Linked DNA regions of Homo sapiens. The protein of the gene in region 5 purifies or fractionates together with the protein of the main gene of each other region. This does not show direct contact. Each region holds a gene or a part of one and is shown on either strand. Other genes may lie near its edges.

Region 1 (2,879 bases), on a different chromosome or scaffold from region 5:
TTCTAGTGTTGGTTCTTCTAGTTCTGACGTTCCCGTTGCTGTATCCCTAGATCCCGCCTTTGTTTTAAGCTCCCGAAGAAAGGCTTCCGGAGACTTTGTGACCTCACCCAATTTCCAACATTCCAGATTGTCTTTTCTTTCTTTAAAATCAGTGTTCCCTTCTGAGTCAGCTAGGAGGAGGCCAGAGGGAAACAGTGGGGCTTTCGAAGCTTATCAAAAGCAAACCTTGCTCTTTTGAAAAAGCATTTTCCAACGCAACCTGGGGACAAAGTGGGGTTAAATTTTACACAGATTGCTTACGAGCAAGAGTTAAGTGGCTAACAAGTCATGAAATCTTACGGAGAAGCAGGTAAAGCCAAAATTAAAAACTCCCTCCGAGTCAGCCCATTCTGCGACCCACCTCCTCCCCTTTGCGGCAGGAACTCTACTCCATCGAGGGGCTTTGCTGCAGTGGCACTGCCCACGCATACTCAACTAAAAGACTCAGACCACGCCAGCCATGCCACGAGGTGTGTTTTATTTTCATTATTCATACAAATAATTTTCTATAATATCCCGGGGCAAACCGGAGAATTTGGCAGTCCGATTGGGGGGGGGTCCCTTCAGAGACCCACAGGCCGGTGGCATCGGCGCGGAGTGCCCAGGTTCACAGTGCAGCTTGTGGCTCGTGTCCATCTTGCAGGTGGCTCTTCCTCCACATCACGACTGGGGTCTCGAAGAGGACGGGGGTAGGAAATCCTCCAGGATCTTAGGAAATTTCACTCCGCTTCTCCTGCTCAATGGCTGTGGAGAGCGGGAAGCGGGCGCTGGAGGGGAGCTGCAACCCCCACCCGCAACCGAGGTGCTTCCCGGTGTGGGCGAGGCACCCACGAGGTGTGGGGATTTAGAAGGAAGCTTGGGGCTGGGGAGAAACAAGGCGCTTTGTGAAACTGAAAGAGTGGCCGGGGCCGCCCACACCGGGGACAACGGCGGGGTGGGGGGTGGAGGAGTGGGTTTGCAAGGAAGAGCAGGGTGAGGGGCTGGGCTGGGGCGCGGGAGACCGAGGCACACTCACTCTCTTTGGTCGGCAGGGTGTTCTTCTCCTGCGTCTCCGTTTTCTTCAGCTTGGCCTTATCGAAGCTGGCGATTTCCCCCATGTCTGGTTTGTCTGCCATTTTCTTAAAACAATCCTAGTGGGCAAACCAAGGCGCTTGACCTGGGCCTGGGGGCCAGCGTCCCCTTCCGCGCTCCCCGCCGACGCCTCTCGACGTGGCACTCGCGCCAAGGCGTGCCGAGCAGCCCCAAGGCCGAGGATCTGGGCGCGTCCCGCACCCCTCTTCTCGGTCCCAGGGCGTGGTCGCCGGCCCCTGCGTCCGGTCCGAGAAGGGCGCCTGTCGCGGTTGCGGCGCGCCCGCCCGGTGCACCGGATCCGACCACACCCTGGGTGGGCCCCCCGCCCCGGCGCCGCACTCACCGTGCAGTCTCGTTCCGAGCCCGAGATCCTGGTGCTCCCACTCGCGTTGCTGCAGCAAGAAACAAAAGAGCGGCGCCCGCCCCTAGCCTTATATACGCCGCGCCCCGCCCCGCCCCTCACCCGCCGCAGCAGGGGCGGTGCTGGCACCCGAGGGGCGGGAGCAGCGCGGGCTGCTCCTCGCCCTGCCGCGCCCCCCGCTGGGCTACCAGCCCGGCTGGGCGCGGCTTCTCCCGCGCCGGGCACCCCCAGCTCGCAGTGTGCCCAGCGTGGGGGCTGTAGTCGCCGCCAGAGTGGGCGCCAGGCCCCCGGCTTTGCTTTTGCGGCTACATTTCCCCCTTTCCGGGAATCTGCTGCTCACCCCGCAGAAAGGATATGGGACCGGCGTGGGAGGGTGTGTGGTTTTGTGCGTGTGCAGATATGATGTGTAGCCGTGGGTGTGGATGTGCGGGCGTGCACGCGCACTCTGCAGCAATCCTCGCTCTAGGAGACGCCCCACCCCAGTCGCCCCCAGGCCTCTTGCTTTTGCTCCTCCAGAGTCCCCTTCCCTCCCCCACTTTTCCTCTCCTTAGGGAGGCTGAGTCCTAAGGTGGTCCTGCACTAAAAGAATTCGAGCCGAGGGTCCCGTAGTGGAGCGGGGGGCGGGGGGGTGTAGGGGGAGGGGGGAATAGGTTTCCAGCGCTCTTTGCTCAGGTTGGGGGCGGTTGCCTTCTGGTCAGTCGTCCCCTGTTCCCTGAACTGGGCGGTTCCAGCAGGATCGTTGGCGTGGCGGGTGTTCCTTAAATGCTGTTAGACGCATTGTGTGAAGGGCTGTGGTGGGAACAGGGCGTCCCGAGAAGGCTCGCAGTTTGCCTTTTCTCGTCGAGCTCCTAGAAACACTGTATCAGCGGGTGCGGTTTTCCTCCTTGAAGTTAACCTTGAGGATAATAGAGACCCACATGCCTACAAACGTTCTTGTTTTTCTTATTAACCCATTGTAGGAGTGGTATACTGCAATTATTCACATCTTTCTTAGAAAAGTTGTATTTTCAGCCTGTGCAACACCGTTAGGTAATAAGTTCCATAAATTACCAGCCCCGGAGTTAAGGCTGGTCATTCTTTTATTTGTCCTGACCTTTCCTTTTTTAAGTGTGAAGTATTACCGAGCTCTTTAAAGTGGGATTTGGTGGTGACATCCTAAATTCGGTCCTGATTTTATTTATTTACTTTTTTTGAGACAGGGTCTCACTCTGTCACCCAGGCTGGAGTGCAGTGGTGTGATCACGGCTTATGGCAGCCTGGACTTCCCCGGTTCAAGTGATTCTTCCACCTCAGCCTCCTGAGCAGTTGGGACTGCGGGCGTGCACCACCACTAGCGGCAAATCTTTTGTGTTCTTTTTGTAGAGACGAGATTTCACCATGTTGCCCAGGCTGGTCTCGAACTTCTGGG
Region 2 (3,500 bases), on a different chromosome or scaffold from region 5:
GAATATCCCATAATTTGGAAGAGGCATCACAAGCACCAGAAACAAAAGTCCTCATGTCAGGACTCAAAGAAAGACTCATCACATCTCCAGAATGCCCAGTGAATGTGGTGGTCTGCTGGGCAGTTTCGATGTCCCATAAAGCACTGTAATTAAAAACAAAATTTCATGACAATTACTTCTTCTTATGTCAGTTCCTGCTACCACCCTCAAACCCATAATCAGTGTGCTTCTGGAATAAACTTACCAAGTTGTATCTCCTGAACTTGTAACAATTTGGCTGTCATCTAAAAAACGACAGCAGGACAAGTACCCTACAGCATAAAGAGTAGCAAATTTTAGGTTATCACTGATTGAATAACTCAGTTACCATGTGAAATAGCAATATATATTTTTAAAAATAGAATACTTGGGCAACAAGTGTTTGTCAATATAGTCTATAGTTCTACTTTTAGTTACTTCAAATCCTACATTGTCTATAAACCAAATTTTATCCACAAACCATTCTTAGGCATTAACTATGTTAATGACATTGTGCTGGGTACTCTGAAAGTTACCAAATTGAATAAGACACAGCCCCTGCCACCTAAGACAATTACCTTGGGAAGAACTATAATCTATGGCCGACTGTGTTAAGCACCCTGGAGAAATAGTTTTAAAATACTGTGAGAGGATGCCTCTGGGTGCACCGCCTATGAGTTAGCCCTTCTCTGCAAGGAGCAGTTAAAAAAATTTTTTTTTCAAATAAAAAATATTAAAAAAATAAAATATTGTAAGAAATCAGAAGAACAACAGTGAAGACTTTATGAAAGATGTGGCATTTGAATGCTTAGCATTCATCAGTGTTTCAAAATATGGAAATGTCAGAAAAACACCATTCTAGAGATTTTGTAAAAGCATGGTCAAATAGTATGGCTAAAAATTCAGATGGATAGATACCAGATAAGTGGCAATAAATTCCTGATTAACACCACTAACCCAATACTACACTATTGAACTATGATGGGCACACTGGCAAACAAAGCAATACACTATCATGGTGAAAAGCACTTCACTAATGTACCTTAATGCATACTTTCAATTATGTAATTGAGTACAGATGCCACAATCCCATAATTGTTATATGGCAGCAGAAAATGGAGAACATTTTATTTGCTTTATTTTTCATGAGTTTGAATTTTGTGCAGTAAATTTATCATTTTTTACAAAAACAATACAGCTATTTTTGAAAAATAAAATTATGATCAACGTTTGTATGACTATAAAAAGTTAATGTTTCCTTTGTTCATAATAATTTCATTCCCACCCGATTAATCCTCATCCTTTAGCCAGCCGAGCACAATCTGTCATTTGTCCTTGATCAGCACATTCCACACAAGGAATCGTGTGGTGGGAAAGAATATTTAGGGAAGCTCACCTGTGTGACCTGGCAACTCTCGGCTTACTCTCACATTTCCCTCTCTGGTCTTTAAGTTATATATAGAGCAGATGTTGTCCAAGCCTCCACAGGCAACATAATTACCAGAGGGAGCATAAGCACAGGTCATCACCCAGGAGGACCTCAAAGGAATAGCATGCATCTGTAGGGCACACACCACACATCACTCAGATTACAAAAACAGTCATCTATTGCATAAACCCATTTACAATGAAGTAAATATTATTAAAAATTAAACACATCTAAGAAAGATAAGTCAAATAAAATAATGTAATGGCTTGAGAAAGTGAACCATGAAAAATACAACACTAACGCACATTAAAATGCCTATTGTTTTGTATTATCAAATCATTTGAGTCAAAAAGTGCTCTTTTTGGAAATAATTCTCTTAATAAAATAATGAACATAAAGATGTTCCAAGGTTAATATACTGCCATTTGAAAAATTAAGTGTAAAATGTTAGAGGTTTTAATAGAATTTTCACTTTTGTAATAGTGCTCAGAAGAGAAATTTCCTCCAACATAACTCTGAACAAGAACTAGGGAAATAATTAGCAAGTATCAGAGTCGATTACATGAGTCTTCCATGAAAAGACAACACTGGCATCCCTCTATTAATAGGCCCTTATTCTGGGATCTCATTCAAACAATGGTGATAGTTTTTTATTGCTCTAGAAACAACACTGTCTGCTGCCTTGTTACCCTAACACCAATCATTTGAAGGTCAGATGGAAAAAAGGTGTATGAGAATACCACGGCTAAACAGTCCATACAGGGAATCAACACGTGGCAGGATTACTACTATGCTCTCACTTAACCTAAAATAATACGCTTAAAATACATTTTTTTTGTTTTATGAAAATATAGTTGAAAGATAATGTGCTTAATGATGATTAATAAAGAAAAACTATTATATTACAAAATTGTCTTAGCTAGCTTTAAAATCTCAATCAGGTTGAAATTATTATTTCACAAAATGGTATTTTCAAATGTTTAATAAAAATACTAATATGTATACACAGAGTATAAAGGTATTAGCTTATCAAAGTATTCCTGAAGCTTTTTCACCACTCAACTATTTTAAACTGGGGATTCCTTCCAGTGGATGTATTAGGACCATCCACAGTCTTTTACCACCAAGAGATCTACGTAAGTTGTCATTTACCTCCAATCTACTGTATCTTCTAAAAAGTCCAGAAGCACAAATCAGTGCCTGGAGCGGGCCAAAGAAGAGCTTCCCACTAGCCATCTAACTTATCCAAAACTAGAAATAAAAATCTCAAGGTCTTTGTCATATTAGGAAATGGGAATTTTTAAAAATCATTTATTAGTATATGTAAAATGGTACTCTTCTAATATTCATATATTAAATATGAGCCCTCTAGTAAAACATAGAGTCATCTTTGGAAATGAAAAAGGGTTAAACATTAAAAGTAAACACTAAGACAAAAGAGAAGAACTAGATTAAAATAAACAATAAATTTATCTCAGAAAGCAATTTAAGTTTGAGGTAAAAGAATAAAGGAAAGAACTGGTGAACAGCCAAACAAATATAAGGTTATTTAAAAGAATTATGAAGAAATTCTACCTTATTTGTTGTATAGCTATCCCAAATAATTAATTTTCCATCTTGAGAAGCACTGACTAGCAGCCTAGAGGAACAAACACAAAAATAATTTGACACTTAGAGGGAAAAAATAGCTTAAATTGGTTATGCATTGCATTAATGTAGAATAATTCAGAAAAATACAATTTTTCCAACTAAAAACTTGATACCAAAAAATGTTCTTCCAACTTTTAAAAAATTTATGCTGCATGCCAAAAATCTTGAACATATTTCATAAAATAAAATTTAGCAACTGACTAAAAATGTCTGGCTATGATTAAACATTTTTGTGGTAACAACATCTTAGTTATACAAGATTTGGGTGGATATTAGCTGACTGGTTTAGTACTTACTGACTTACTTAAATTTCATGACAAGAATGTACATAGAAGCCTAACAACCATATTTCATCCAATCTAAAAACACCAATTGAGAGCCTGAGAATATGACAATACTAGAG
Region 3 (4,258 bases), on a different chromosome or scaffold from region 5:
CAGGCGCACGCCACCACGCCCAGCCAATTTTTTTTTTCTTTTTTTGAGACAGGGTCTCGCTCTGTTGCTGGGCTGGAGTACGGTGGCGCGATCTCAGCTCACTGCGACCTCCACCTCCCAGGTTCAAGTGATTCTCCTGCCTCAGCCTCCTGGGTAGCTGGGACTACAGGTGCACACCATCACACCTAGCTAATTTTTGTATTTTTAGTAGAGACGGGGTTTCACCATGTTGGCCAGGATGGTCTCGATCTCCTGACCTCGTGATCCGCCCACCTCGGTCGGCCTCCCAATGTGCTGAGATTACAGGTGTGAGCCACCACACCCAGCCTAATTTTTGTATTTTTAATAGAGACAGAGTTTCACCATGTTGCCCAAGCTGTTCTCGAACTCCTGGACTCATGTGATCCTCCTGCCTTGGCCTCCCAAAGTGCTGGGATTACAGGCGTGAGCCACAACCCATGGCTGAAGGGTGTAATGTTTTAAATGGGAAAGAAAAAAAGGAAGATGTATATGTATATGTGGCAGGTCCCTGTGTATGGTTCTCTCTCTCTACCTACCTGCTTATCATTTTTAAGTCAGTTCCCAGGACCACATCCATGTGGCCCTGACAGGTCCACAGAGTGACAACCATCTAATCAATACCGACTTGTTATGTAATCTTGGGCACATGACCCCTCTCTGGGCCTCAGTTTCTTCATTTGTAAAATGGGATCATGGTTGTACCTCTCCTTAGGGGGTTATCAGTAGAATCAGGAGCAGCATCTTGGCTGGGCGCAGTGGCTCACGCCTGTAATCCCAGCAATTTGGGAGGCCAAGGCGGGTGGATCACCTGAGGTCAGGAGTTCAAGACCAGCCTGGCCAACATGGGGAAACCCCGTCTCTACTAAAAATACAAAAATTAGCTGGGCATGGTGGCGGGCACCTGTAATCCCAGCTACTCGGGAAGCTAAGGCAGGAGAATTGCTTGGACCCGGGAACCGGAGGTTGCAGTGAGCCAAGATTGCACCATTGCACTCCACTCCAGCCTGGGCGACAGAGCAAAACTCTGTCTCAAAAAAAAAAAAAAAAAAAAAAAAAAAAAAAAAGGAGCAGCATCTTGGAAGGAAGAGCTGAGACTGCTCTCCATATTGGGAAATTGAGACAAGGCCACAGACTTAATGCACAGGGCTAGAGACAACCACTCAGACATCTGGATGGTCAAGAGGCCCAGGCATCGGCCCAGCTTAGCCACTGCTGATGCAGGGCAAATGATTTCCCTTCTTAGCTTCTTCACCTGTCAGATGGCATCTAATCTGAATGTGAGTGAAGTGTGCTGAGTATTGCCCAAAGAGCCAGCACCATGGCCAAGGACACACCTCTGCAATCAGACAGATCTGCATTCAAATTAGCAGCTTAGGGACTTTCACCTCCTGGAGCCTTAGTGTCCTCATGAGTGAACTAGGATGCCAAGAATAGCTCCCTCTCAGGGTGGCTGTGTGGAGTTGAGATTTAGAGCAATGCGCTGCTAGGGAGCTACCACTAAAAGAGACTGAGAAGAGGCCTGGGGCCATCCATACCTTGCAACTGCTGTAAAAGCAAAGCTCTCTGCAGCATGGAGCCGTTGAGGAGGGAGGCTGAGTTGGTGCCCTGGAGATTCAGAAGCGGCTGCTGTGGCTGCTGCGGGGGGAGCCCCCTGTGTGTTGGGAGGGGGTGTCAGAGGGTTATTTGGAAAGTCAGACCTTCCTTCTTCCCCAAGGCTTCTCACCTCCATTCTCTGCCCCACTCTGTGGTAGACAGAGGACCCCTTGGGGCTGGAATTGGTGATCTCCAGGACTCAAACGGGGATGGCACTGGGAAAAAGGATGGGGATCGGGAGCTCCGAGACATGGGTCTGAGTAGCAAGGCTGAAGCCATCGCGCCCGAGAGGGGAACTCACCGGCTGACAGCCATGGGCAACGGGGCCTGTGGTGGGGACTGCTGGAGCAGCTGCTGGAGCTGCAGTAACTGCTGCTGCTGCAATTGCTGCTGCTGGAGCTGCTGCTGCTGTAACTGCTGGAGCTGCTGCTGCTGTTGCTGGAGCTGCTGCTGCTGCTGCTGGCTGAACATGGTGGCTAGGGGCAGAAAGCAGAGTGAGGCAAGGGGTCCCCACCATAAGTCAGGCCTGCTCCCCTCCCATCCACCGCCACTCCCCGCAGCCACAGCCCGCAGAGACTGCTGAGGAGCTTCACAGCTGCATTCCCAGTCCTGCCAAGAGCCTGCCACACTCGCTTGGCCCATCCTTCCAAGTTACCTCCAGTCCTGCTAGGGGCAAGATTCAACCACCCTCCTGCCAATGCCCCCCAGACACTGCCAACAGCCCCTCCTTCAAGTCCCTCCATCTCTCCATTTCTGGCGGCTCCATCCTCCCACCCTCAGCCTCAGCCTCTCTCTGCGCCCATCACTTCCTCACTCACAGCCCCTTTTCAATACCGCAACCCTCTCTGGGCCCCCGGGTGTCAATAACATCGGCACCCGTCCAACCCGGTCACCGTGGTCCTGAGCTCCGTGGGACGGCTTCTCTCCACCACCGCCACCTCCTCGCGCCCCACTCCGCCCGCTCCCACCCCGCCAGCCGCCTCCTCCGCAGACACAGCCAGCTCGCAGGCGGAGCCCCACGACCCAGCCGCCCCCGGCCCCGCACCTCGCCTCCCCGCGCGCCCTCAACGCTCAAGTCGCCCCCACGGATGGGCCGGCCCCGCAGCCCCCACGCCTCGGCCGGGCGGCTCCGGCCCGCGGGCTCCCGGCCTCCCCGCTGCTACTCCGGGGCCTGTGGGCTCGTAAGGCCCAAATGCGGGCGGGGCCGGCCGGGGCAGCGCCCTCTGGGGGACGGGAGGTCCAGGCGCCTCCGGCCGCGCCACCCGAGCCCGCCCAGTGCACAAGTCACGCTGGGGGGCGGCTGCGGGGCGCTAGCAGGTGCGAGGGGGTCCTGGGCGGCTCATACCCTCTGTCCCGCGTCCTCCGCATCGCGAAGGGGAGGCTCGGAGACCAAGGTCCGTCTGCCGCCCGGAAGGGTCAGCCATCCCGCGGGGCATCGAGGGGGACTTCCTTCCTGTTCCCAACCCACCTCCCTGCGGCCGCCGCGGTCCTGCGATCCTGGGGCCCCGCGCGGGGCTGCGGTGAGAGGGGGCGCGCAGTTGGCGGATGTACATTCATTCGAGGGACCCAGGCCAGGCGAGAGGGCGGCCAAGGTCTTACAGTCCGTCAGGAGTTTGCCCACGGAGGGGTGGAGGGAGAGTCCCCCTCCAAGTCTTTTCTCAGTAGATTTGGCTAAGGAAGGAGTAGGTGAGGAGGGTCGAGGCCAATTATCAAAAAATAGCCCTAGGGGCCGGGCGCTTCCGCCTGTAATCTCAGTACTCTGGGAGGCCGAGGCTGGAGGATCAAGACCAGCCTGGGCAAAATGGCGAAATCCCTCTCTACAAAAAATACAAACATTAGCCAGGGTGGTGGCGGGCGTCTGTAGTCCCAGCTACTCGGGAGGCTAAGGCAAGAGGATCACTTGAGCCCGGGAGGCACAGGCTGCAGTGAGCTGAGATCGCGCCACTGCACTCCAGCCTGAGCGACAGAGCAAGAGCTGTCAAAAAAAAAAAAGTAAAAATTTTAAAAAGAAAAGGAGAGGAAAACAGAGCCCTGCTCCCTTATCCTGCACCTAAAATGGTCCTGCCCCCAAGAACCCCCTTAACAACCGCTGTATCCCCCCATCCCCGCGCCGTAACAATCCTTGGCTACTAAGTAGTAATTCTTTTATTTATTTTTTATTTATTTATATTTTTGAGACGGAGTCTCACTCTGTCGCCCAGGCTGAAGTGCAGTGGCACGATCTGGGCTCACCGCAACCTCCGCCTCCTGGGTTCAAGTGGTCCTCCCGCCTCAGCTTCCAGAATACCTGGGACTACAGGCGCGGGCCACCACGCCCGGCTAATTTTTGTATTTTTAATAGAGACGGGGCTTCACCATGTTGGTCAGGCTAGTCTCGAACTCCTGACCTCAAGTGATTCGCCTGCCTTGGCCTCCCAAAGTGCTGGGATTACAGGGGTGAGCCACCTCTCCTGGACTAAGTAGCAATTCCGGCTCCCTTTTCTGTGGCTCCCTGCCTTGTGCGTGTCACAGCCTGGGCGACTCCTCGCCCTGCCTTCCGCGCCGACGTTGGGCGGGCAGGGCGCGCGGGGGCACTGGCGGCGCGCAGACCCGGGCAGGCGGAGCGCGTTGACGGAGGGCGCTCGGGCAGCAGAATTCGCGCGTC
Region 4 (3,500 bases), on a different chromosome or scaffold from region 5:
TGGCTCCTGAGCCTTTGCACACCTCCGAGCCGGGCGCACCTTCAGCATCTCCTGCCTGGCCCTGCCTTGCACTTTGGCCATCTCCCTACAAGCCACATAGCTGGGCCCAGCCTGCGTTCCCAATCACCCACACTTCACTGACCATGCCCAGCAGGCTGGGATAGGAGATGTAGCTGGGACGACCCCACCCCTGCCCACAAAGCCACACAAGTGGCCCAGGAGAGAGGCAGCTGTGAGCAACAGCAGAGCTGCCCAGCTCTGCCCCCTCTGAGCACAGAGCCTCAGGAATACGCTCCAGGGTGGCAGCACAGGCTGCCCTGGGACCTGCTGATGGCCAGTTACCTGCTTGACCATCTTGCTGCTCTCACGGCCATACATGCGCAGTAAAGACCCCCAGTTCTTGACATGTGGGTGCAGCAGCTGAAGGATCTTCTGTGAGGCTAACTGCTTTCCAACTCTCTTGTTCTTACCTACACAGAGAAAGAGCAAGCATGGAGAGGGGGTCACAAACACCCAGTGCTCATGGGGCCCCCTGCCGCTCCCAGCCCTCCTGACCCACACCCCGAGGGCCAGCCAGGGCACATTCTACAGGAATAGGCAGCACTCTGCCACTGCTCTGGGCACCTGAGTCTCACAGTACCCAGCTGCCACCTTGAGAGAGTGGCCCTCAGAGTCTAGGAGCTGAGGACACTACCACTCAAAGCCACGCAGCCGAGAGCCTCCCTCCCGCCAAGACGCACACCTCCAGAAACAGGGAGCAGCAGGATTCTGCTGGCTGTTCGAGGAGGAGGGCCTTTCCTCCTGCCACAGGGACAAGGGCTGGACGGAGACAGGGGTGACAGCGGGGGAAAGGGAAAAGACAGGGAAAGTGCAGGCAGGACGGCTGCCAGTCCGCCTTAGGCTGAACGTGTGGTGGCCAGCACACACAGCTGGGCTCAGGGACAATGCCAGGGCAACAGCTGAGACCAAGCCACAGAGGCGCAGGGCCACACCAGGGGCCGCCCGCCCAGCGGCCACCAGGCAGCAGAGAAGGAGTCCTTACACCACCCGCGCACTGTGTGCTTGCCACACGCCATGACGTATTCACTCTTCTGGTTTTTCCCAGGAACCACTTCAAACTTGATAGACGTGTCACCCATCCCATGGTTTCTTTAAGAGAAAACAGACAACAGATGGCGTCCCCTGAGCAGAGCAGCCAGCTGCCTCTGAGGAGGCCTGCTCTGGGAAGCCCTTAGGAAATGACCAAGCCTCTCCCCAGACTGCATCTCAGCCAGAGGAGGGAATTCTCCACACGCCCGATTCAGGCCTGTGGGACTGACTGGTGGCCAGGGCCAAGGGGCTGCTGTGTACCCAGGGAAACCTGGCCATGCCTCTGCCTTGGGACAAACAGCCACAAGAATATGAGACGCCAGAGAGGAGCTCCCCCGACCTGACTCATGGGGGGAGGCACCCCCCTACCCTACCTTTTAAGGCACTCGTGGAGGATCTGATATGGAGACAACAGCCCAGCCTTGCTGGTCAGCTCGTAGACCCGCGAGTCCTCGATGCTGATGTGGTTAAAATACTACAACACAAAGCAGAGGCTTGTGAGTCCCCACCAGGCCCACCGGCCTCTTCATGGCTGGGCCTGCGGTTGGCTTTCCCCAGATGCTTAATGTCTGTTCTTGTGAGCTCGCCTAGCACTTCATACCTCAACTCTGCAAGGAACCCACCGGGTACAAGACATGCTCCGTACCTCACCGTCCAGTTGCCCATCTCCAGAGCCCACAGCACCCTTCCACCCTGAGCACTGTGGGATGGAGTCTGGTATCCTAAGAGGGCCCCAGGTACATGGCTGGCTGGCCAGGCCCACCTTATTTGGATCTGATTCTGATCCATAAGGCACCCTTCTCAGAACTCTATAAAGATAAAGCACCTTTGCAGAGAGGCTTTACTATTGCCACAACTGAGACTACAGGAGAGGGAAAGTCAGCCAGACCCAAAAGCTGGCCTTAAAAGGCCCAGCTCCCCAAAGGCCAAAGCCCCACACAGCTACACAGAGCCCAGCCCCAGGTGGCCAGCAGAGGCCCAGCCCAGCAAGGCTTCCAACAGTGTCATCACCCTGGCTCTGCAGCCAACCCAAGAACACACAGGAAGGACAAGAGAGGCAGACAGGGAAACAAGAGGTGATGGGGAGATTCCACACAGTGAGGCATAGGGAAGCTGCAGCAGGCTGAGGTGCAGAGACATTGCCCACTGTGCCTTCCCAGACTAGGACTTTGGCTGAAGCTGAGAGTGCCTCCTGGGTGAAAGGAAGATGCTATCCAGCCCACTCTGGAGCATGGACAACCTCCCTGGTGGAGCTCCTGTGACAACATACCACAAAGTCAGTGGCTTAGAACAAGAGGTTTATTCTCTCACCATTCTGAAGTCTGAAATCAAGGCCTCAGCAGGGCCATCCTCTTTCAGAAGCCTCTAGGGAGCCTCTGCCAGCTCCTGGTGGCCCCGGCATCCCTTGGCTATGGCAGCATTGCTCCGATTTTCATATGGACTACTAGCCCTGCCCCTCCTCCCTCTTCTTAGAGAAACACCAGACACACTGGATCACACCACTGCTCTGCTTCAGTGTGATCTCATGTTAACCTAATTCTATCTGCAATCATCCTCTTTCCAAAAAAGACCACACTTTGAAGCACTGGAGATTACCCATCAGCCACACCCTCACAGTGCTTCCCCCACTGGCCCTGTTCTGGAGGGGTCTGCAGGGACCTGGAGCCTGCCTGGCCCATGGGCAGCGAGGAAACCTAGAATCAAATGATTCACACGCCTCGCTGTGCAGGCTCCACAGTGTGCCAAGCCCGCTCCACAGGGACACTGGCCCTACAGACAGGGCAGTGGGCAGCTCCTCTGCCCTCGCCGCTCCAGCAAGCAGCAAGGCCAACTCGCTGCAACTGCATAGAAGAGGAAGGCACTAGCCCTGAGGTTGGCAAGCGAAAAATCCTCGAGGTATGGCTTGGCTACTGTCTTCAAATAGGTCCCCAGAAGACACTGCTCCTCTCAAGTGCACAAATCAACATGGGTCTTTTTCCAGGGAAGGTCACTCACCAAGACATCAGGCCCTGGAACCTCAAGGGTTTGTCAACCAGCCAACCAATTAGCAACGTCCAGTGCTGTCGGCCCACAAGAACCCACATACCCCACGGCTTCGGGACTGGCCCTGGAGAAGCTGAGGCAGTGGCTGACACACACACAGCTAGAGAGCACGCTCAGAAGTTTCTGGCAAAAGACCGACGCCAGCCGGGCGCGGTGGCTCACGCCTGTAATCCCAGCACTTTGGGAGGCCGAGGCGGGTGGATCACGAGGTCAGGAGATCGAGACCATCCTGGCTAACAAGGTGAAACCCCGTCTCTACTAAAAATACAAAAAAAAATTAGCCGGGCGCGGTGGCAGGCGCCTGTAGTCCCAGCTACTCGGGAGGCTGAGGCAGGAGAATGGCGTGAACCCGGGAAGCAGAGCTTGCA
Region 5 (3,500 bases):
ACACACACACACACACACACACACACACAGGAAGTGGTTAGAGCTAACCAGTAAACCTGGTCAAAGATAGGACCTAACTACCTTTAAAAATCTCAAAACTCAAAAGCCAGTCAACTCTAAATGATTTATGTAAAAGGATTTCTTTTGGGAGCTAAGAGCTGAATCATGAAGGCTTGTAACCAAAATCACAATTAGACCAAAGGGTTTAATTTTTTTAATGTTTTATTTTTAGTTTTATTCCATCAAGTACAGGAAATAATTATAAAATGCAAGGTAAACAATATTTAATTCTGGCCATATTTGAAAGGGCAGGCCATGAAAACAAGAACATCTCATGCTAGAAAATGAAATGCTTTTAGCACATTGCCCGATCTTTCCGTAGGAAACATACTTCATATAAAGGGGCACTATTATGCTTTAATTAGGTATGAAATGAATTGAAGAAATAAATCCTTTGCTTTTAGAACTACTTATTAGCCTTTGGAAAATTTGTCATTAATTCCTGTGAATGCACTGGTAACAGCCAATGGTTGGGAACACTTTATTTTCTTTCTTTCCTTTAAGGTTAGAAAAATGTTAGCATTTCTAATATTCCTATCAACAAAATTTCTGGGTCTCAGTACAATACAATGTTTCACTGCACACACTTTTTCTTCCCCTGAATGTCATTTACAACCACGGAATTAAGCAAAATGCCTATTTGTTTACAAAATGTCTAAAAGTACATGAAGAATCAAGGAAGAACCTAGCCTACAGGAGGTGTGCACTGTGCCCTTTGGTTTTACATGCTTATCAATTAATGACCAAAACTGGGAGCATCGCAATGGAGAATATAAAGCTGGGAATATAAAATAATAACATCAGTTCTGAAAAATCTCATGAGGGCATACTCTTACCACCTTCTACTTCTCTCAGTTCCAATGTTCTTAGTAAAACATTGTTTCATCAACAGTTTTAGAAAATCATTACAATTTTAAAATTTGAGATTATATTTGCTGTTCCAATCAAACAAAAAGAGGTAATGTTCTTGTATGTGTGTTTTCACAGACTGGACCCATCCTTTCTGAAATAATGTAATTACGTTTCTTACTAAGGATCATATAGGTAGATATTTTGAACCCACAGGAAGAAGCAAGTAAAAACAAGTAGTTTCCTCACTGCTATTAAGAATGGATGCCTGCCTTGGGTGGTTTACCCAGGGATAGAGGAAGTTTTATAAGGCTGAGTGCTACTGCTTCTTTCCCAGCTCTCTTTCTCCCAAGGCCTCAGTGTGGTCATACCTGGTCTTGCAAAGACAGCGTGGAGAAGGCTGGCACACTCTTAGCCCACTTGATGCTCATGAAGAGAAGTCTGGCAGCTGATTCACACACCGACTCCGTGGCCACTTCATAGAGATACATTGGGGTCCCATTCACTTCATGGGGGTACTGGGTAGGGAAGAAAGAAAGACACCTGGAAGTGAGGAAACCACAGCTTTGCAAGAAGAACCAAACTTTTAATTTCTAATTAAAGCAAGGAAGGGGATAAAAAAGAATTTGGATGTTTTGTTTAAACATGCAGTTGACATTGGTGGGTAAAAAAATCAAACATCGCTGTCTATAGAGTTTGAAAAGTAATACTGGTTGGGGGAGGTCCATTTCCACTCTTTGGGAGCCTCTCCCTTCCAGAAGGCCCTCTGGCTTTTCTATCCCCTGCAGCAAATTTTCCTTGGGCTGAGCCAAGTGCCAAGCCTGGCTCCCAATTTAGACAAGAGCTGCTTGCATTTGTGTAAATAAAAATAGATGTGAAAAAGTATAAATTAATAGGCATCCCAAACACAAATATGCATATGAGTATTTTTAGAAAGGATTAGTATATTATGGAAATATTTCAATTAGACATCTTAATCATTCACAGAGCATTCCCATTCATAACTGACAACATATTCATAACACTACTTTCCAGAGCTTATTATACACATCAAGGGTAAGAAAGCCATATTAAATATTGTGCGTGTGCATGTGCCCAGGTGTCTGGCTTCCCTGCAGTGTGGGGCTGCAGCTGGCCCTCCTCTGAGGGAGATCCTAGGCCCTCATCAGCCTGGAGTGGGGGTGTTAGTAGGTATCAGCTGTAGGCCTGGAGGGTAGGCCTTAGGTGGCAGCCTTTCCAGGTGGTTCAGGCTGTGGCCCTGCTCCTATGGAATCAACCCTGCTGTAAATCCACCTGCCTCAGAAGTAGGTGAGGGGAGCATGGGAAATGAACTCAGATTCCTCAAACTGTTCTAACAGTGTGATCTCCACATTTCGCACTTGCGTTAGAAACTCATGGCTTTGCCCAAGATCATACATGCCAAGATTTGGAATTCTGGAGCCCTTCCTCCAGCTGTAGCCAATTCCTCTCCTCTAAAAATGAACGTTGGTTCTTCTGGTCTTTAGGAACACCTGAGGCTGCCCTCTGGGTTTAGACGAGGTCTCCACCCACCACCCATTACCAGTGGGTGTTTCCTAAAGGTGCAGGTTCCTGGCCTCCACCCCAAACTTGCTGAAATGAAATTTCTGGGGGGATAAGATCCGGAGTGCACACTTGTAGCCACTCGGAGGTTGACTCTACTGTACACTCAAGTTTGAGCACCCCTGGCTGAACAAGGGAGAGCAGAAGGGCTGGAGCTCCATGCAGAGACCCGCCAAGCACCCTGGAGTTCTCTCCCCAGTTTGCCTGACCCCAATCACACAGCTCAGAAGAACTGGGTGCGTCCCTCTCCATTCGCTGGCACGAGTCTCTTTGGGCCCAGCAAGGCCGCTGACCTTGGGCGTGGGCTGAGCCAGGCTCACGAGGGTCTGCCGCTCTGGAGTGGTGGACACCGCGGCCAGCTCCAGGCCGTGCGGCTCCAGCTGCGTGACCGCGGTGAAGAAGGCCGGCGCAGGGAGCGCCGCCGAGGGAAAGTGCGCGGCGGCCCCGTTCTCCTCCTTGTGTCCACGGAAGTAGAGGGCCACTTGCTTGCGGATGGTGGACGTCCGAGGCCCCCGCTCGTGCTGCACGGCTGCAGAGGCAAACAGAGAAACGCATGCCGGCGATTAGAGACGTCGAGACACAGCCGCTGCGGCTCTCCCCCCAGCCCCGCCCCAATGTCAAGTCTGGGCGGGCAAAATCGCCCAAGAGGTGAAAAGAAGAAGGGAGAGGGAATCTGAGGGAGGAAGGGATTCTGAGATCGTCTAACCACTACACTGAATAGATTCGGAAGCTGAGGCTTAGAAGAGGGGCCCGTGCTCAAAGTGCCACGATAATGGCAGAGCCTCAAGTAAGACCAGGTGTGTTCTCCTTCGGTCCAGGGCTCCTCCCCACCAGGGAAGGGGGTTCGCAGGGAAACCAGAGACCCTCTGGGCTGGAGTAGCCAGGTATCCTCGCCCCCATCCAAAAGAGAGGGAGCGTCGCGCACGCCAGACACCTCGTTTCTGCGCAGACTTTTCCAGCTCCGTCCAAGAACAAGCCTCCCTACCCGCAGGCCCCGCCCCCACAGAAAT
Region 6 (3,004 bases), on a different chromosome or scaffold from region 5:
AATTTTACTTATGCCCTCACCCATTACCTACTATTATACTTCATTATAATTCCCAACAAACTTTTGGAATCTGTATCTGTACCTACCATTTTTTACTGTTTTCCCCAGGATTCCACGGAAATCTTTTTCAAAGGGTCACTGTAAGATAATTAAAACTAATGTCCTGTTAACAATCCTCATTTTTTCCATCACTATATAGCAGTCAACACAGACTGAAATTACATTTATGGTAATCGTCTATCATGTGCTTTCATACACACAAAAATATATATAAAAGCTCATATGACCTAATAAACCATCTGAAATAGATGGTATTAATCCTCTCTTACAGATGAGGAAATAAGCCAAAGAGTGGCTTGCCTGAGATCACAATCATTCAGGAAAATGAACCCAGAAGATCTAAGTGCTCATCCCACTGATGGCTGGTCCTAGAACTGTCTTCTACTAGTTCCTTTTATAGTTCTTTTTCCATTATTTAACAAAACTGAAAATCAAGATTATTCATTTTCCTCAATGGATTCTAACTTTATTACAGTGAACTTGAATGAAACAAAGTGAAAATAGTTAGTATAAGGCCTGGCATATTATAAGGCGAAGTATTCATGTTACTGACTTCTTAGAAGCATATAAAAATAGGCTAATCCAAGAGTTCAAAAGTATATATGCTCAACTCATTAAAATCCCCACATCTATAGTTACATTAATTTAGATGAAAACCAAGCAACTATCGTTTCATAGCAATTGGCAGACTTTAATATTCAAGAAAAATTAATTTCATCATACACATTAAAAATATAGGAAATTTCATGCAGACATGAAGCTTCCAATTCAGCTTTTGTGGCAACTTTTAGAATGAGAGTTACATATAAATACAGTACATTTTACAGTTACCAAACTTCATAATTTTATACTGTGATTTTTACAGCTTCTCCTTATATTGTACATGTTCCACCTTGCTCACTTGATTAGCATACCCTATATCTGCACTGCTTCAGAATATAGAAATTAAACAAAAAAACATAAGCACAGTGGACTATCTCCTCCCATTTCATAAAGTAAATGAAAATGTTTGTGTATAAAGCTAATTTAAGAAAAACATTTTAAACTTTAAGGCTTACATACTTTAGTAGCTAGGACTAAAATTAAGAAATACAAAGCTAAATAAATCCTCCAGTGATACTTCTATTATTGATTGATACCACATTTTCAAGTTTAGAATATATTAACTGCAAAAGCTGTAAGAAAAGAAGTGATGCAAATTTGTATAGAACATTTAAAAAACAATATTCATGATATGAGGGATAAATTAACAAATGAAGTAACTGATTTCAGAATTAACTAAAACATATGCTATAATTTAGAAATTTAACATTATTAAAGAAAACCTAATAGAAAAAAAATTAATTAATAAAGCCAACCCACCAGTGTCAACCTGTTTTTGCCTGTGACAAAAACAAAGATCATTTGTTTTGATACAAGTTGTAAAAAAGTGAATACTAGTCAGTGAATAAAAAGCATGTCTAAGCCATTGAAAAACAGCATGCATTCCTTTCTGTTCGATTGATTTTTAAAAAATACTTATGTACTTTGCAAGTTTTCTTCTTTTAAAACAATAATTTGAGTTTTTTTTTTCTTCCTTGCCACTAAATTCAAACTCATTCATGTAAGTAATAAGAATTTCCACCAAATGAACATCTGCTAAGTATTGAGGGACACAAAAAAGAGAAATCTTAAAAAAAAAAAAAAAAGGTTACAGTCTTCCCAATTTTGACATGTCAGATTAACTACATGAAACCCTCTATTGCATAGTGAGAGTAAAGGTCACAAAAGTCCCATCACTGTACACGGAAAAGGTCCCCCCAACTAGTAAGATGCCAAATAGGGTAGTGACTCCCCAGCCTAAGTGACAACAAAGGTCTAAAGATTTACAAGTAACTTTTCCTATTAAAACATGACATTTATGCGACCAGCACATTACTGAGATTAAATCCATCTAATTTAAATTGCCACAGAGGTCATTTAAAGCAATCACAATCATCTGTGAAAATATTCAAGAAGAGTTCTTCCTTTTCTCCAAGAAAAGGCTAAAACATTAGTCATCTCTACTTTCCAAGCTACTGGAAACAGAATATCATACATTAAAAAATACAAAGGAAAACTCCCTCCAATAAAGATCTGCTAGAGGTAGAAATTTAAAGCAGCATATACTGTTTAAGCTCCATCTATCAGGGAACAAAATTGGTATTAATCTGAAATTACATGATGGCTGCTGCTTACAATATTGAAGACACAGACCACGGGCAGTAATATATCCCTGAATTTCATAATCAAAATTCCCCACATTAATACTATTATGACAGTTTTTCCTAGTATATAATTTTTTTAATGAAAAAAGTGCTTGCTTTCATAATCCAGATATTCTAAAGAAAAGACATTATTGTAAACATCACACTGTCAAACTCTGTATTCATTTAGAGTCTGAAAATCACATATTTCAAATGGGTAAATTTTATTCTTATTTTCTCTGTTTCCTAGCACTACTTTTAATAAAGGCTTTTTATTTCTCACTTTGAATGTTGAGATCTCGTATATTTCAAAGTGATCCATGATGAGTATGCTTTCATAAAGTGTTCAGTTTATTGTGGCCAAAAGACTTTGATATTTCTGTTACTTGAATATATTTTACCGGCCTGTGATGCTATTAAATTTAACATTTCATAAAAAAGAAATGTTTGATGCTTCTTTAAGTTCATCTGAGCCAGAAAATACAAAATTAAATTAATCTGAATGATAAAATAGACACAGGCCAGGCGCGGTGGTACATGCCTACAGTCCTAGCTACTCAGGAGGCTAAGGCTAAGGCAGGAAGATCGCTTGAGTCCAGGAGTTTGAGGTTACAGTGAGCTATGATCGTGCCACTGCACTCCGGCCTGGGAGACAGAGCGGGATCCTGTCTCTGAAGAAAAAAAAAAAAAAAGACATATTTTACGCATAGTTTTCTTAG
Region 7 (2,202 bases), on a different chromosome or scaffold from region 5:
GCAGCATCCCGGCCTCCACTGTCCCGCATCCTGACAACCAAGTGTCTCCAGACACTGCCAAATGCCCCCAGGGTGGTGCCAAATCAGACAAAGCACTGAGCTTTGGTTCCAGCCAACTCCGATGAGAGAAATGACTACTCCGGGGAGAGAAAAGGAGCCTGGAGAAGCTCCTCTTCAGCACACATCTCTGCACCCTTGCCAAAATTTACTGTGTAGTCTGTCTTTGACCTTGTAAAAATTCCTGCACGTTTACACAAAGTGCTGATGGAAGTAAAGCCATCTAGTCAGCACTGTCAAGTTGATACCTCCATCCACAGACAGCGTGCGCCAGCAGCCGGGCTGTGCACACAGGCAGCACTGTTGGTAAAATAAAAATCTGGGAAACTAAGCAAACGCCCAGCTGCTGGCTGTGAGGAGTGTCCGTCATCCACAGGAAGGGGTAGTGCGCACTATGAACGAGACCCGAAGGCATGGAGCAGCTACCTTTTGTGTATGGGGGCGCCAAGGGGGCCAGGCCAAAGGAAAGTAGAGACTACAGGTGGCCGGGTGGAAGGACAGAGGGAGGCATGGATGCAAGAAGGGACAGAAGATGGCGAGAGACAAACAACGTCTTGATGCTATTTTTGAGGCCCTGAATCCCGTTGTGCCTGAAGCTCCCCCTTGTAATTTTCTAGCTACAACAGCCAATCAATCCCCACTTTTCTTAAAGCCAAGTTGAGCCGGGTTTCTGCTACTTGCCATTCCTTGAGGCTGGGAAGTTCAAGGACCGTGCGGAAAAACCCAGTGTCTCCCTGGGAAGCTGGGCCCTGGTATGAACGTGGAACAGCCTCTGGGAAGTGTCTCCTGGAGCCTGGGGCAGGGCTCGGGTGAGGGCAAGGGGTGAGAGGCTTAAGCCTCACAAGCTCTTCCCACCTGGATTCCACCTAGGGCACCATCGGGAGGCCAATGGGGTCATATGGAGACACACGCAGATCCTGCAGCAAAGCTTCTAGGTTGTTCCTCAGCATGGCGTAGGGCGGCTTCTCCTCATACGTGAGGGCCATCACCACCTTCAGGTACTTCTGCAGGGTCTCTGTGGTCAAGACAACCCCCAGCAAGGGAGAGCCTGAGAGGCATCCCCCAACCCCGATCCTGGGGGTCTCCACCCAAGGATGGAGGGGTGGGGGACTGAGGGGCATGAGGGTCTCAGCAAAAGTGCCCATTTTCTTGTTGCCTGGCATTGCCAGAGGACTTCAATTGTTTTTCAGTTTTGGAAAATGTCATACGCAGGCACCAGTAGAAGGGCATGAACACCCAAGTACCCATCACTCAGTTTCAACAAGGATCACCTCACAGCCAATCTTGTTTCATCAAGACCCCTCCCCTGGCCTGCAGTGTTTTAAAGCAAATCCCAGCTAGCAATGCAGTCTACCTGCATATAAATATTTAGCATGTATCTTTAAAGAGGGCGGGCCCTGCTTCACCTCCACCTCCAACCTCTGGCTGACCAGCTTAAAATCCTCGAGGCCCAAGGTTCACAGAGGTAGAACTGGAGGGGAGTGTCACTTGGGCAGCTGAGCCATAATCTGAACCCAGGGATTTAAAGTAATTCAGCCGGGCGCGGTGGCTCACGCCTGTAATCCCAGCACTTTGGGAGGCAGAGGCGGGTGGATCATGAAGTCAGGAGATCGAGACCATCCTGGCTAACACAGTGAAACCCCATCTCTACTAAAAAAAAAAAATACAAAAAATTAGCCACACATGGTGGCGGGTGCCTGTAGTCCCAGCTATTTGGGAGGCAGAGGCAGGAGAATGGCTTGAACCCGGGAGGCAGAGCTTGCAGTGAGCCAAGATCACGCCACCGCACTCCAGCCTGGGCGACAGAGCAAGACTCCGTCTCAAAAAAAATAATAAAATAAATTTTAAAAAAATAAATAATTAAAAAATGAGCCTTAGAGAGCCAGAGGGAACAAGCTATCTGTTTCTGTCTGTCCATTTCTGCCTCCAGCTTGGAGAAAAGCATCAAAGCTCTTCAGGAGGGGCACAAAGACAACAGGAAAAACAAACACCCCCGACACCCCAACAAGACAGTGCAAATACCCAGTAACAGGGATTGGCTTTATAAGTTACGGTGCGGACAAACCATGACCATTGTGCAGCTGTTGATAAAAGCTGTGGTGCATCTATAAGGAAGGGCATGAAGGATGGCCCCAGGGTTAAGTG

What was found.
Region 1: the proteins of NR2E1 (region 5) and TMSB10 purify together in Homo sapiens (affinity purification with mass spectrometry, with the first as the bait; one large-scale study listed by BioGRID). This does not show direct contact.
Region 2: the proteins of NR2E1 (region 5) and GNB4 purify together in Homo sapiens (affinity purification with mass spectrometry, with the first as the bait; one large-scale study listed by BioGRID). This does not show direct contact.
Region 3: the proteins of NR2E1 (region 5) and CIZ1 purify together in Homo sapiens (affinity purification with mass spectrometry; 3 studies listed by BioGRID and IntAct, with this or other methods). This does not show direct contact.
Region 4: the proteins of NR2E1 (region 5) and DGCR8 purify together in Homo sapiens (affinity purification with western blotting; one study listed by BioGRID). This does not show direct contact.
Region 6: the proteins of NR2E1 (region 5) and CARNMT1 purify together in Homo sapiens (affinity purification with mass spectrometry; 3 studies listed by BioGRID and IntAct, with this or other methods). This does not show direct contact.
Region 7: the proteins of NR2E1 (region 5) and VRK3 purify together in Homo sapiens (affinity purification with mass spectrometry; 3 studies listed by BioGRID and IntAct, with this or other methods). This does not show direct contact.

What each region holds. Positions count from the first base shown.
Region 1 is NC_000002.12:84,904,293-84,907,171, reverse strand, and holds TMSB10 (thymosin beta-10), read right to left. Parts: upstream 1,517-2,879; 5' UTR 1,454-1,516; intron 1,170-1,453; 5' UTR 1,155-1,169; coding exon 1,055-1,154; intron 784-1,054; coding exon 749-783; 3' UTR 501-748; downstream 1-500. UniProt on the Homo sapiens protein: Plays an important role in the organization of the cytoskeleton. Binds to and sequesters actin monomers (G actin) and therefore inhibits actin polymerization.
Region 2 is NC_000003.12:179,413,471-179,416,970, forward strand, and holds part of GNB4 (guanine nucleotide-binding protein subunit beta-4), read right to left. Parts: intron 3,087-3,500; coding exon 3,023-3,086; intron 1,578-3,022; coding exon 1,415-1,577; intron 312-1,414; coding exon 245-311; intron 144-244; coding exon 1-143. UniProt on the Homo sapiens protein: Guanine nucleotide-binding proteins (G proteins) are involved as a modulator or transducer in various transmembrane signaling systems.
Region 3 is NC_000009.12:128,188,773-128,193,030, forward strand, and holds the start of CIZ1 (cip1-interacting zinc finger protein), read right to left. Parts: upstream 2,801-4,258; 5' UTR 2,660-2,800; intron 2,091-2,659; coding exon of another isoform or gene 2,086-2,090; coding exon 1,916-2,085; intron 1,673-1,915; coding exon 1,557-1,672; intron 1-1,556. UniProt on the Homo sapiens protein: May regulate the subcellular localization of CIP/WAF1.
Region 4 is NC_000022.11:20,104,241-20,107,740, reverse strand, and holds part of DGCR8 (microprocessor complex subunit DGCR8), read right to left. Parts: intron 1,565-3,500; coding exon 1,464-1,564; intron 1,150-1,463; coding exon 1,043-1,149; intron 471-1,042; coding exon 343-470; intron 1-342.
Region 5 is NC_000006.12:108,176,022-108,179,521, reverse strand, and holds part of NR2E1 (nuclear receptor subfamily 2 group E member 1), read right to left. Parts: intron 3,020-3,500; coding exon 2,784-3,019; intron 1,428-2,783; coding exon 1,281-1,427; intron 1-1,280. UniProt on the Homo sapiens protein: Orphan receptor that binds DNA as a monomer to hormone response elements (HRE) containing an extended core motif half-site sequence 5'-AAGGTCA-3' in which the 5' flanking nucleotides participate in determining receptor specificity.
Region 6 is NC_000009.12:74,980,290-74,983,293, forward strand, and holds the end of CARNMT1 (carnosine N-methyltransferase), read right to left. Parts: 3' UTR 501-3,004; downstream 1-500.
Region 7 is NC_000019.10:49,978,171-49,980,372, forward strand, and holds part of VRK3 (serine/threonine-protein kinase VRK3), read right to left. Parts: intron 1,073-2,202; coding exon 924-1,072; 3' UTR 913-923; intron 1-912. UniProt on the Homo sapiens protein: Plays a role in the regulation of the cell cycle by phosphorylating the nuclear envelope protein barrier-to-autointegration factor/BAF that is required for disassembly and reassembly, respectively, of the nuclear envelope during mitosis.